Linked DNA regions of Homo sapiens: region 1 is linked to region 2. The links come from fine-mapping of genetic effects on gene expression. Tissue or cell type: spinal cord. Region 2 holds a variant in brackets; the other region holds the start of a gene. All regions are shown on one strand. Distances are between the middles of the regions.

Evidence for each region. PIP is the estimated chance that this variant, and not a neighbour inherited with it, causes the effect.
Region 1: CDH12 starts here. The variant in region 2 is the best candidate, but not a certain one, in a credible set for the expression of CDH12 in spinal cord (GTEx, PIP 0.74).

What each region holds. Positions count from the first base shown.
Region 1 is chr5:22,850,154-22,855,551 of GRCh38, reverse strand. CDH12 (cadherin 12) reads left to right here and starts at 2,208. Exons shown (of 15, transcript NM_004061.5): 1 at 2,208-2,494.
Region 2 is chr5:22,173,371-22,178,768 of GRCh38, reverse strand. All of the region lies in intron 4 of CDH12 (cadherin 12), which reads left to right. Among named protein-coding and RNA genes, the nearest start is that of SNORA105A, 290 kb to the right of the region's middle. The variant A/G (reference allele first, on the strand shown) is at 2,601.

The DNA.
Region 1 (5,398 bases), 680 kb before region 2:
AATATTCTTTTCCATTCATGTTTCATACTAAGATGCCAAGACTGGGGAGAAGTGCATCCCTCCTACAGGGAGAGCAGCAAAAATCTGCAAAACACACACACCAATGTAATTTATTACATGATCATTTTCAATCTCTTTCAAATCTCAATGATTTCATTAATTTGATCTTCTCCACTCCACCTTCAGATGCTCTTTTTTCTTCAACTTTTGCCGTTTGTACTAATAATATTGCACATCTTACAATGCGCTAGGAGGGGTCAAAACATTTATTTTTTAAATGACAGATAGTAAACATTTTAGGATTCATATTGTAAGTCTCTGTGGCTACTACTTGACTCTGCCATTGTAATGCGAAAGCGGTCATGGACAATACATAAAGAAATCGGCACCACTGGGTTTCAATAAGTCTTTATTTACAAAAGCAGGTGGCTGGTCTTCTGTTGTAATTTGTAGACCCCTTAGCTAGAGCAATGACTGTCCAACCTGAATGTGCATTGGAAGCATCTGGAGGGATATTAAAACATAGATCGCAGTGTCCCATTCTCTTAAAGTTTCTGATTTGATAGGCTTGGGGAAGGGCTTGAGAACTTGTCTTTTCAACAAGTTCCAGGTGATGTTTTTGCTATTGGTCTGGGGACCACACATTGAGAACTCTCGACCTGTAGTACAAAGACAATGTTCTGTAGTCAATGACCTATTATTTGTGATCAAAAAAGGAATTTAAATAAATGAAAAATATACTATACAATTGAGGGAAAAGCAATGTTTATGATTCATTTTTTCATCAGCATATTCTTTTCTTCACAAAATCCAAGTGACCAAACTTAGCCAGAGACTGCCCTGAATGAAATATTTATTGGCTACATAAATGAGTTACAATAAAGTTAGCATTCACCTTGTTATAGTGACACAGCATACAGTGTGTAAATATTACATTTTTCCGTGCCTCCCTTCACGTGATAGACAGGTCACGAAATTGTTTTGTTTGTAAAGTCTCCCCAAGCCATTTCAATTTGTCACGATACACAAAGCTTGGCTACACCACCTACATCAACACATTTGTATTCAGTGAAACAAAAAGATTTCAGACAGTCCCAATAATTTTATTCTTTTTCAACACTAGCATTGAAAAGACATTGTTATTTGTGTACAGTCCTCCTGTAGGGAGACATATTTTTAAAACTGTATTGAGACTCTGTACTCTTGAGATTTTTTATAGAACAAAATTAAATGATTATCTGAAATATTGTGGCATTCTTGATGTCTGAATAATAAAATGACTTAGAGTCTTAGAAAATACACGATTCTTGGTGAATATATTTAAGCAAATGTTTATTCAATAGTTAGCACTTTAATAGTGAAACACAAAGAAAGATAATCATGGTTAAAGAATGCAAAGTTGTTTTGTGGCTTTTGGAGGAATAGGTTTTCAACAATAACACTTTTCATTGTAATATTTTATTGCCATTATAATATTCTATAAAGTTTTAGGTAATTATTAATAAATTCTCTCATATAAAGAGAAATTAACATTAATTTTTAAAATCTTACAATATTTAAACATGACAAAATTAAAACAGACCAGACTAATGTATATAGTCTTAGCAATCTTGAGTTCTTCATAGACTCTGAACCAAGTTAAATCAGCCTAGAAACAAGTAAGTGAATTAGGAGAAATTGCTTGAGCATGGTTATTGTCACCAATAAGCATCTGATTCTCGTTTAGACAATTAAACATTGAGACAGCTTCCAGGTAAACGTAATTAATTGTCTTGATTCACAAAAAAGACTCAAGCGACTTAGTGGAGGAAAGACTAATAGAACCCAAGATTTTTTCCTCCCAGGTGACAGTTCTCTGATATGCAATAGATCTCAAGCATTTAAAAAGCAAAGCTTCGGGTGCTAACCCAGGTGCTATCACTTTCTCAGCGCCTAATCTTCACCCGCTGCTAGGCTCGTTTAATGAGTCTTCTGAGAGCTAAGGAGTCCTCGGATTCATTCAAAGCATTCTACAATGAACGCTAGGGGGGAAAAAGAACAAACAAAATACATTTCAAATATAGGATTCAATTACTTTTCACTACTCAATGATGTGTCAAAGGCACGCTGTGTTTTGTTTTGAGGGCGGGGAGATGACAGGAGGGAATCCTGGGCCCCCATTGGCTCGCCGCTCGCCGCTGCAGTTGAGCTCCAGCCGCTCCGAGAGCATTATTGATCTGAAGGGTAAATGTGGAGGGAGCCACAGAGAGGGGTCCAGGCTTTTCTGAGAAGAGAGGCAGCCTCTTCCAGGAAGAAAGTGGTGTCTACTGGCTGCCCGGCCTGGAGAACCTTCTTTGAATGAAAACGGACAAAATGCAAAGCAGTGTGTTGGCACAGTGATTTGGAAAGGGGAAACAGAAGAGAAGGGTCTCACCTTCCGCGCAAGGCTGAGCTGTTGGCACCCTGCTGCGGCCGTCGGTGCTGCTGCTCCTGCAGCTGCCTTTTCTGCCATCAGGTAAGGCTTCCGTTTTTGATTGGGATTGCACCGCGTGTGTGTGATCGCTTCAGGGTGCATGCACAGAAATTCATACATGATTAATAAAGTGATGCCTAGCGTAGTGAGAAGCTGAACGAAGCTGCACACAGATCTGGCAGCTGAATTAGGAGCTTGTGCGTGGTTTTGCTTTGGGAAACTTCGGTAAGTTCTAAACAAGTCTCTGGTCCTCAGACCGTGAGAGGTTACGTGAAAAGAGGAAGGAAAGAAATGTTTTAACCTCAAATGCATCTTAGCATGGCTAAATTTTCAAATGAAAATAAGTAGGTGTGCTAGATGTCCAACTAGTTATTTTATAAATGGCTTTATAGATATCTGATTTTTACAACAAAATAATGAATGCTTTATTTTCAAAGAGCTTCCAGAGATGCCGACCCCCCTCACTCATTTCTCCACTGACGCTGAAATTTATGAACTTCATTCTTCATTTGAAAAATACCACTGTAAAACCATTTAAATGTTTTAATGGCCTGCCTCTCATGGTACAGCCATTTGAGTTTCCTACCACAAAACTAATCTGGGACAAATGAAAGAGATAGATTACCAGATCTGCTGTGGGTTATATAATATGCATTTCCAAATTATTTTAAGGTTATTGATCATTTGGTGATACATTTAACAAGGAGGAAATATGTGTGATATAGGACATAATGGCAAATCATTTTTCAAAAAAGACCTTCAGCATTTTATAAGTATTTTCTTATGTTTTTAACATCATTATTTGTTTTTTGCTACATCGGGACCACAGTGTATTTAGAACCTCTGTACTTCAGAGTACCTGATATCTCTTATACACATTTCTCTGTACTCTCTGGAGAGGGAACTGACATACTTCTGGCTGATTCTGCGACCATTTCATGATTCTCAATTTCTCATCGAGTATTTTGAAGCTCATTCACAAACTGCTCAGCTAGAAAATTACCTTACATACTGAGGGGGAAAAATTCAAATAGAGTAGATTCTGAAAATGTGTTTACAGTTTTAAATTACACTATACATGACCAAAACAGGAAAAATGCAACCATGCCAAGCAGGTATTAGTTTGCTTGATCTTCACTGTATACCTGAGCAGTTGTAAGGTTATAAAATAATATCCAGACACACAGCTGTCAAGAAATACTGAACCTCATCATTCAGTGGCAGCGCCTCATCATTAAATTATCCTAGACAATTTAAAATATCATCTTATATATTTTTATTATTATGTCAACAGGAGAATTCAACCGAGTAAGTTTTTATTATAAATAATTCCATGATTCTAGCAGAATGTCTCTTCAGAATTGAAAGGCAGATGGTTACTTTGCCCAAACCATGAACAGGTGATTGACGAATTGTTTTGGAGTGGTTGAGTGGATAGCCACATGCAAAACAGGGGCTTCCCTTTAACTAATTTAACTGATACATCGAGTTATTCAGCAACAATATTTAGAAACTGTCTCTCCACCTTCTATGAAAACTACTGAAGTAAAAAGAGGTTTTCAATTAAGTTGAAAATCGAATTCTAGAACATAACATATTTTTCTCTTAATAACTCTTACTTCAGAGACCAGTTTCCAAGATTAGCCCTGGCATTGTTAATCCCCTTCCCCATTAAAAAAATGTTTTTGATTTTCTGTGTTGTTCAGTTAATCTCTGCTTGCTGTGTTCTTAACTTCTACTGTGGTGTGCCATTTCCAAGCAGTAGGGGGAAGTTTTTAAGCCACGAATGCTTTTTTATTTTCTACTCAAACTCACTCCTCTCACTGATCTGCTTAGTGATGTGATCATTTTAGATAATTCCTACAAAAAAGAGAAAGCTGCATTATTGTTGGGGGGAGGGGGAGGGAGTGTGAGTCATTTCTTCCACACACGGAATGATATGTATTAAGTTCTTACTACAGTACAAACAGTGTTTAGTTTATGGGGAAGAAAATTTCTCTTAATGCCTCATGTGACGTACTTACACCTCATATAACTCTGTCCTTTGAGGATGGAGCATAAAACTGATCTCCTTAAATTGAGCATCTTTTGAACCTGATATTTTGGCAGAGCCTATTTCATGTAACAGTCTGGGATATAGGTTGAAATCAATCCTTTATCATTATGAGATTAATAAGGATATATGTCACTCTTGCCTCTTAAAATGCATTGTGATGAACATCAAATCAGTCTTGCCATGATAGGAGGATTCATAGAGTGATGGCTGTCTTTAAAAGTGAGCCATGTTTTCATGTAAAAATATAAAATCTAAGGGCTTGGGTAATAAAATGACCTACTAGCAGACTCTGTTGTAAATTTCTTCCTACTTCCAAAGGGAAAGAGTGATTACAGATGTCTCATTTAAAGTAAGATATTATCCTGTTCATCTTCTAGCAAATTATTGCTGTTTTAAAAGTAATTATGTCAGAAATTATCATGTGATCATTACATCAATAGAGAACATTTTGCTTATAATCTAGTACCAATTGATATTCCTATTTGTGTTAAATTATAGGTGGAAAATATTTATCCTTCCTGTTTAACAAATATTGCATTTTATTTTTATGAATAGGCTTAAATAGTACCCAAAAATACATTTAATTGTTAAATAAATGAAAATGTATTATTTTTACTGGGAGCTTTTTATTTTGCTAATACTGAATAACTGAACAATTTAAACTCAGAGCTTTTAAAAGCCTTTTAACTTTCAGCTTTAAGACAGTTGCAGCTTTTTCCTGACTTACTATGCTAGGAGGGTAATATATCATAACCAAACTTTAAAAGGAAAATGTGTGTGTGTGAATGTGTACTATGCTGCCTGTATTGAATATCAATAGTAGTTACTCAAAGTTGTTTTTAAGCATCTCATCATAAGATGATTAATAAAATGGAGTAAATAACTTTTTT
Region 2 (5,398 bases):
TTTTCTTGGTATAGTAGAACCACAAAACAACAAGTTTATTTGACTCTCAGTTTTACAAAGTTAAAAAGATTGATAATACCTAGAGTTCACAGTATGTGAGGAAAAGGGTACCCTGAGGACTATTGGTAAGAGTATGAATTGGTGTTACTCTTCAGAATGGCAACTTGCCAATATGTGTTAAATGTTAACAGCATTTATCTAGCAATTTCAGCTTCTAAGAGTTTAATTAATAGAAACAATCAGAAAAAGACACAAAGATTGATGAATAAACTCTGTTGCATAAAGAGATGTTCATTGTTTATAACAGAAAAGTGGTTTTACAAATTAGAAATACATAGATATTCAAAAGTAAATTTTCTGCAAAAATATTACTATTAATACCATAGGTATTTATAATTTTGAGGATATCTGATATCCCCATCACAATAATCTATCACAACAACCCAAGGAAGGCTTTAATGAGCATAAGAATAATTAAGTCAATGATATCTCTGGTATCCATGGTATTTGAGCTGAGTCCACATCTGAAGGAGTTTAACTTTGAGATCTAATCTGAAATCTAAATAGAAGTTAGCATGAGAAAGGATAGGTGTTAAAATTCTGCTGGGCAGAGGGGCATGACCAATTAGATCTAAGGGATGAGAGGTAGCCTTGACTATTTAGGAAATAATAAATATCTTGGTATTCCTGAAACACGGTGTGGATACATGCCAGTGAGGGAAGATGCAGCTGGAGAAGTCAACAGCAATCATGTTACTTTCTGTTTCTTTCACCATCAGTAGTGATATCTTCATTTACTATTGTCTGTTTTTCACAATTTGAACATAGTAAAATGTTATTTTATGATTGGAATTAAGTGTTCACCATGCTATGTTTAGTAAGCTAGCTACCTTTTAATTTGTCAAACCATCTCTCTATCTACTTAAAAACCAACAGAGTCGTTGAAGCTAAGAGAGAAATGTCCAGAGGATTTTTTTTAGAGAAAAGAACACATGAAGCAACCCCTCTCTCAGTTGTGTGTCTATATAAGTGTTTGATGGTGTGATAGGTGGGTGGCTCTCCTCATATTTTTCCAAGTCTCACAGAGAGAGGTTGCTCTAGAATAGCAGCCCCCATGGCCGTGATCCAGCCATGTGTGATTAATTTCTAAATGTGGAAATCAAAGCCAGCTTTAATCAGTTTCAAAGCTATATAGAGATCCAATAGAAGGGTAACTCCAAATTAAAGTCTGTGCTTGAATATGGATTTTCTTTGAATAGTTGGATTTTCAAAGAATTTGTGAAATTTTTTAAGTTGATACTATATCTACTTGTGCTACATAATTTAAACATGAGATTCATTATTCCTTCCCCTGTGAAGCAAGGTTTTCAGGCACTAAGTTCTACAGAGGGATTCCCACACCCAAATTACAGGAAACTTACTCCTGTTTCTGCAATATATTTTCATTTCATTTAGAAGATAAATACAACTAATGAGAAAAAAGCAAAGCGACTTCTGTATGAAAAAAATAGGTAGGGAAATTTGTGATTTCACCATAAAATAATCATGGGATTTGTGTCAACATTTCCATTAATCAGGATTTCTGCAGAACCTGCAACGTGCTAAGTACTGAGGGTAGAGTAACCACCTAGGAAGTCAAAATCCCTGTTTCATGCCATTTATAATACCATTTACATTCAGTGAAGCAAGAAACAAATACGTATTATGTCAGGTTATCATAAATACTATTGATTACAATAAAAGGCAGGGTTGGAGGGTAGCAGATATGAGCATATGCCTGTGTGTGAATCAGTAGTGTGGGTGGCTTGTCTGATCATATGGCAGCTTGGTTGAGGCATGAGCAAAGAGGCAAAGCATGAAGATATCGAGGGAAAGGGCATTGCAGGCAAATGGGGCTGCAGGATAGTGAGGGAAGTCAGAGGTGATACAGGAGGAAGTGAAAGAGGTAGAAAGTGCCCCAACTCTATGAGGGCTCTGAGTTTGGATATGCTCCTAGCAGAAGAGTGGTATGATCTGATTAAATGATCACTCCCACTCCCCTGTGGAAGAGATCTGGTTTGACTGGTAGGAGAGCAGAAGCAGAGAGACAAGATAGGGTGGCAGTTAGGCAGAAAGTGACAGTAGCTTGGAATACAGTATTCATAATGGAGAGATACCAAGTGCAAGTATTGAAAAGACATTTGGGGTAGAACTAACCAGACTCTGCTATTGGAATAGATAAGGAAGGAATAAAAAGATGACACCTAGCATTTGGTATGAGAAACAAAGCTGCTGGCTTATTTAGGTGAGGAAGGCAGGAAGAAAGCAAAATAGAAGATAATTGAGCAGAGAATGTTATATAACAAACGTGATCATCTGAACACAGCTATTTAAAGTATCAGAAAGACTGTTTCCTAAAACACATGGATTAAGATACTATATATTGATCAGTTAAACTTAATCTGGAGACAGACTTTCAAAAAAAGAAACAAAGCAACAAAACAATGAAGGGATTTACATGTTTACATGGTTTTGAATCTTTCATTCAAATATGAAAAGTGAAAATCTTGCCACTGCATTCAGATATACAAAGTTTGTCCTGGATTATAAGGATGATATGG[A/G]CATTCACACCCTAATACCCCGAAGTGTATATATGTGATAGAGTTTGTTTGAAGATAATGTATACACTGAGAACTAGGACGAGTCAAATGAGCCCAGTTGCTCAATAATCCATAGAGACGTGTTAAAGCAGATTGAGCTGGACTGGATTCAGCACAGAAAGGGTTCCGGGAAGGAGATACCAGCCCTATAATGATCTACACATTTTTAGGAGTGGAGAAAGGAAGAAAATAAACATCTAGTAACCCTGTGATGATTGGTGCTTCTTGGTTTAGGAAGTGGCCGAGTTAAAAGGAGAAAGCTCCTGAGCTCAGCCTCTGGTCCTATTTATTGCGCTAGTTCAGGTGAGCTGATCCAGTTTCTTGCTAAGTCACTGAAAGGGTGGAGGAGATGAGCCATCAGGGATATCTAGAATTTTCTCTCCTTACCCTGATTAGACTTCATTCTGCCATCAGCATTCACGCTTTCTGTTGTAGGTTGACCTACATAGATACCACCTATACAGATTCCTTTTACAGGCATGTCCCATTCAACCTATAAATCTTTAGCTGCATTATTTTATTTTCTATTCTTTTTAATTAACACCATATATTTCTTAATTTTGGTTATAAAAAATTTACATTTCCTTCTGATACTTAGGAAAACTCAAGCCTGGGAAATAGGCAAAGAAATACATTTATAGATATATACATATATTTTTTTTCATTCTCAAGTTTTCCAAATAGATTTATATTAGCTTTCTGTTTGATCCTGAACTTCTGAGTCCTTCTGGCATTTAACAGAATAACCTGATAGACACAGAAGAAGCTACCATATTTTGCTTTAAACAATTTTTTCTACATCTGACATGGATAGATGGTTTACTATTTGTGAAGAAGAAAAATGTGTCTGTACATTAAATTTTCTAAATTAATGCTATTACACACAATGTGTAACAAATACTGATAATCTGTTAAACCAGGCATGTTTAGAAACCCTATTAAACCTAAAAGAAAGAACTAAATTTATTTATGAGACAATTCACAAAGTAAAAGCATTTCTTTAAATCTGAAATGTAATTGATTGAGAATGAGGGTTTTTGTATGTGCTAAATAATTAGGCATTTAATACATAGTTTAATTCATTAATATTTATTTTAAAATATTAATTTAACTCTAGGTAAGTAGGTATAGGACATTTATAATAATAACATTAATGTGGAAGACTAATAAATAATATAGAGTCATTAGAGCCTTGAGATGGTTGTTAGTGTCTTATATTCCTGGCACAGCAAAATTTCTTTCAAAATTAATACAATTTAAAGACAGTTCTTTAAAATTTATAGCTTTGCAAATTGAGTTGACATTAGTTATCTGTATGGTTGTGCATATATAAAGCATATTTGCAACTTTTTATCATTGGTGACCAGAGTGTGGTGGATTCGGTTAATTAGAAATCCACATTAATATACCCTCTTTTTAGTGTATTTTGACTCAGTCTTTACTTGTCCTCAAGATAAATGGTATTGACTGATTCCCGTGGTTCACTTAATAGAACAGGCAGAACTCCATTTGTATTCATTATGGTCGGTCTATATTAATCATTCCATTTCTTACCTAAAGCTATGTCAGGACATATTTTCCAATTCATGATTTCTGCCTGATTTTTCACTAAATTCTAGGCTTGCAGTTTAGTTAAAAAACAAAACTTAATTACAGTTTTGAAAAGCTTTTAGAAATGCCATTGGATCTTGAACTGATTAAACAAACCATTTTGTTATATCAATGTGTTGACAAACTATTAGGGACATAGTCATACTTACTGTTTTTGCTTTAATTTTAACTTACTATTAAATTAGATGAAATTTGAAGCAAGTTTTATTTTTGAAGTATTTACAAAGTTCAAGGTACTGTGCAAGGTACTGAAAGAAATACAAGAGAAGTAGAGCTTTAAGCATGTGTTTAGTGTAATGAAGACAACACAGGATTTAGTCGAAGTTGAGGACATTTTATTTTGAATTTCCAATGAATCTTGTGCCACATTTTTTACATCAACCTTGTCATCTATAGAATGAGAATACTAACAATTATTGATCTACTTACTTCAAATGTTTTGTGAAAATGAAATGATATTTATTCGTAAAGCATTGCATGCGTTACAAATCACAATATTTATATTCACCTAATGTGTTTCACAGAATACTAGTAATTCTATGAGTATAACCAAAAGTGATTCCTGGCCAAACATGTTTGGGAAATGCAGCATACTATCTCCATTCCACTTGGAGTGGCATGTGGCATATCAGCTTTTACAGGCTCAACTATTTTTTCTAGACTAGGATTCTCCACATTTCTTTAAGCGTACTTTATCATAAAATACTAATTAGTATTGCAAAAAATTATGGTAACATCGAAAATACTAAGGAAATTACACATTACGTAAGTGTTAGTTGTGCTTTTACTATCACAGTGTATGTGGTAGGAGTAACAATTTTAGTATATGAATAGCTACAGCACACAGCAGACAAACAATATAATAAAAGTAGTAAAAATTACATCATACCATCTCATAGAAAGGAAGAGTTAACCAAGGTTGTAAAAATCGAAGTAATTCTTCAAAATATTTGAATATCTAATCTGTATATAGGATTCTATTTGGATGTCCAGGATATCCAAGCCTAATCCTATATAAGGGTTAGATATCTAAAGTCTAATTCTATATACAGGTTATTTCAAATATTTTAAAGCATTTGAAATATTTATTAATATTTATTTAATATTTATTAATATTTATTAATATTTATATTATATAAAAGTGTATG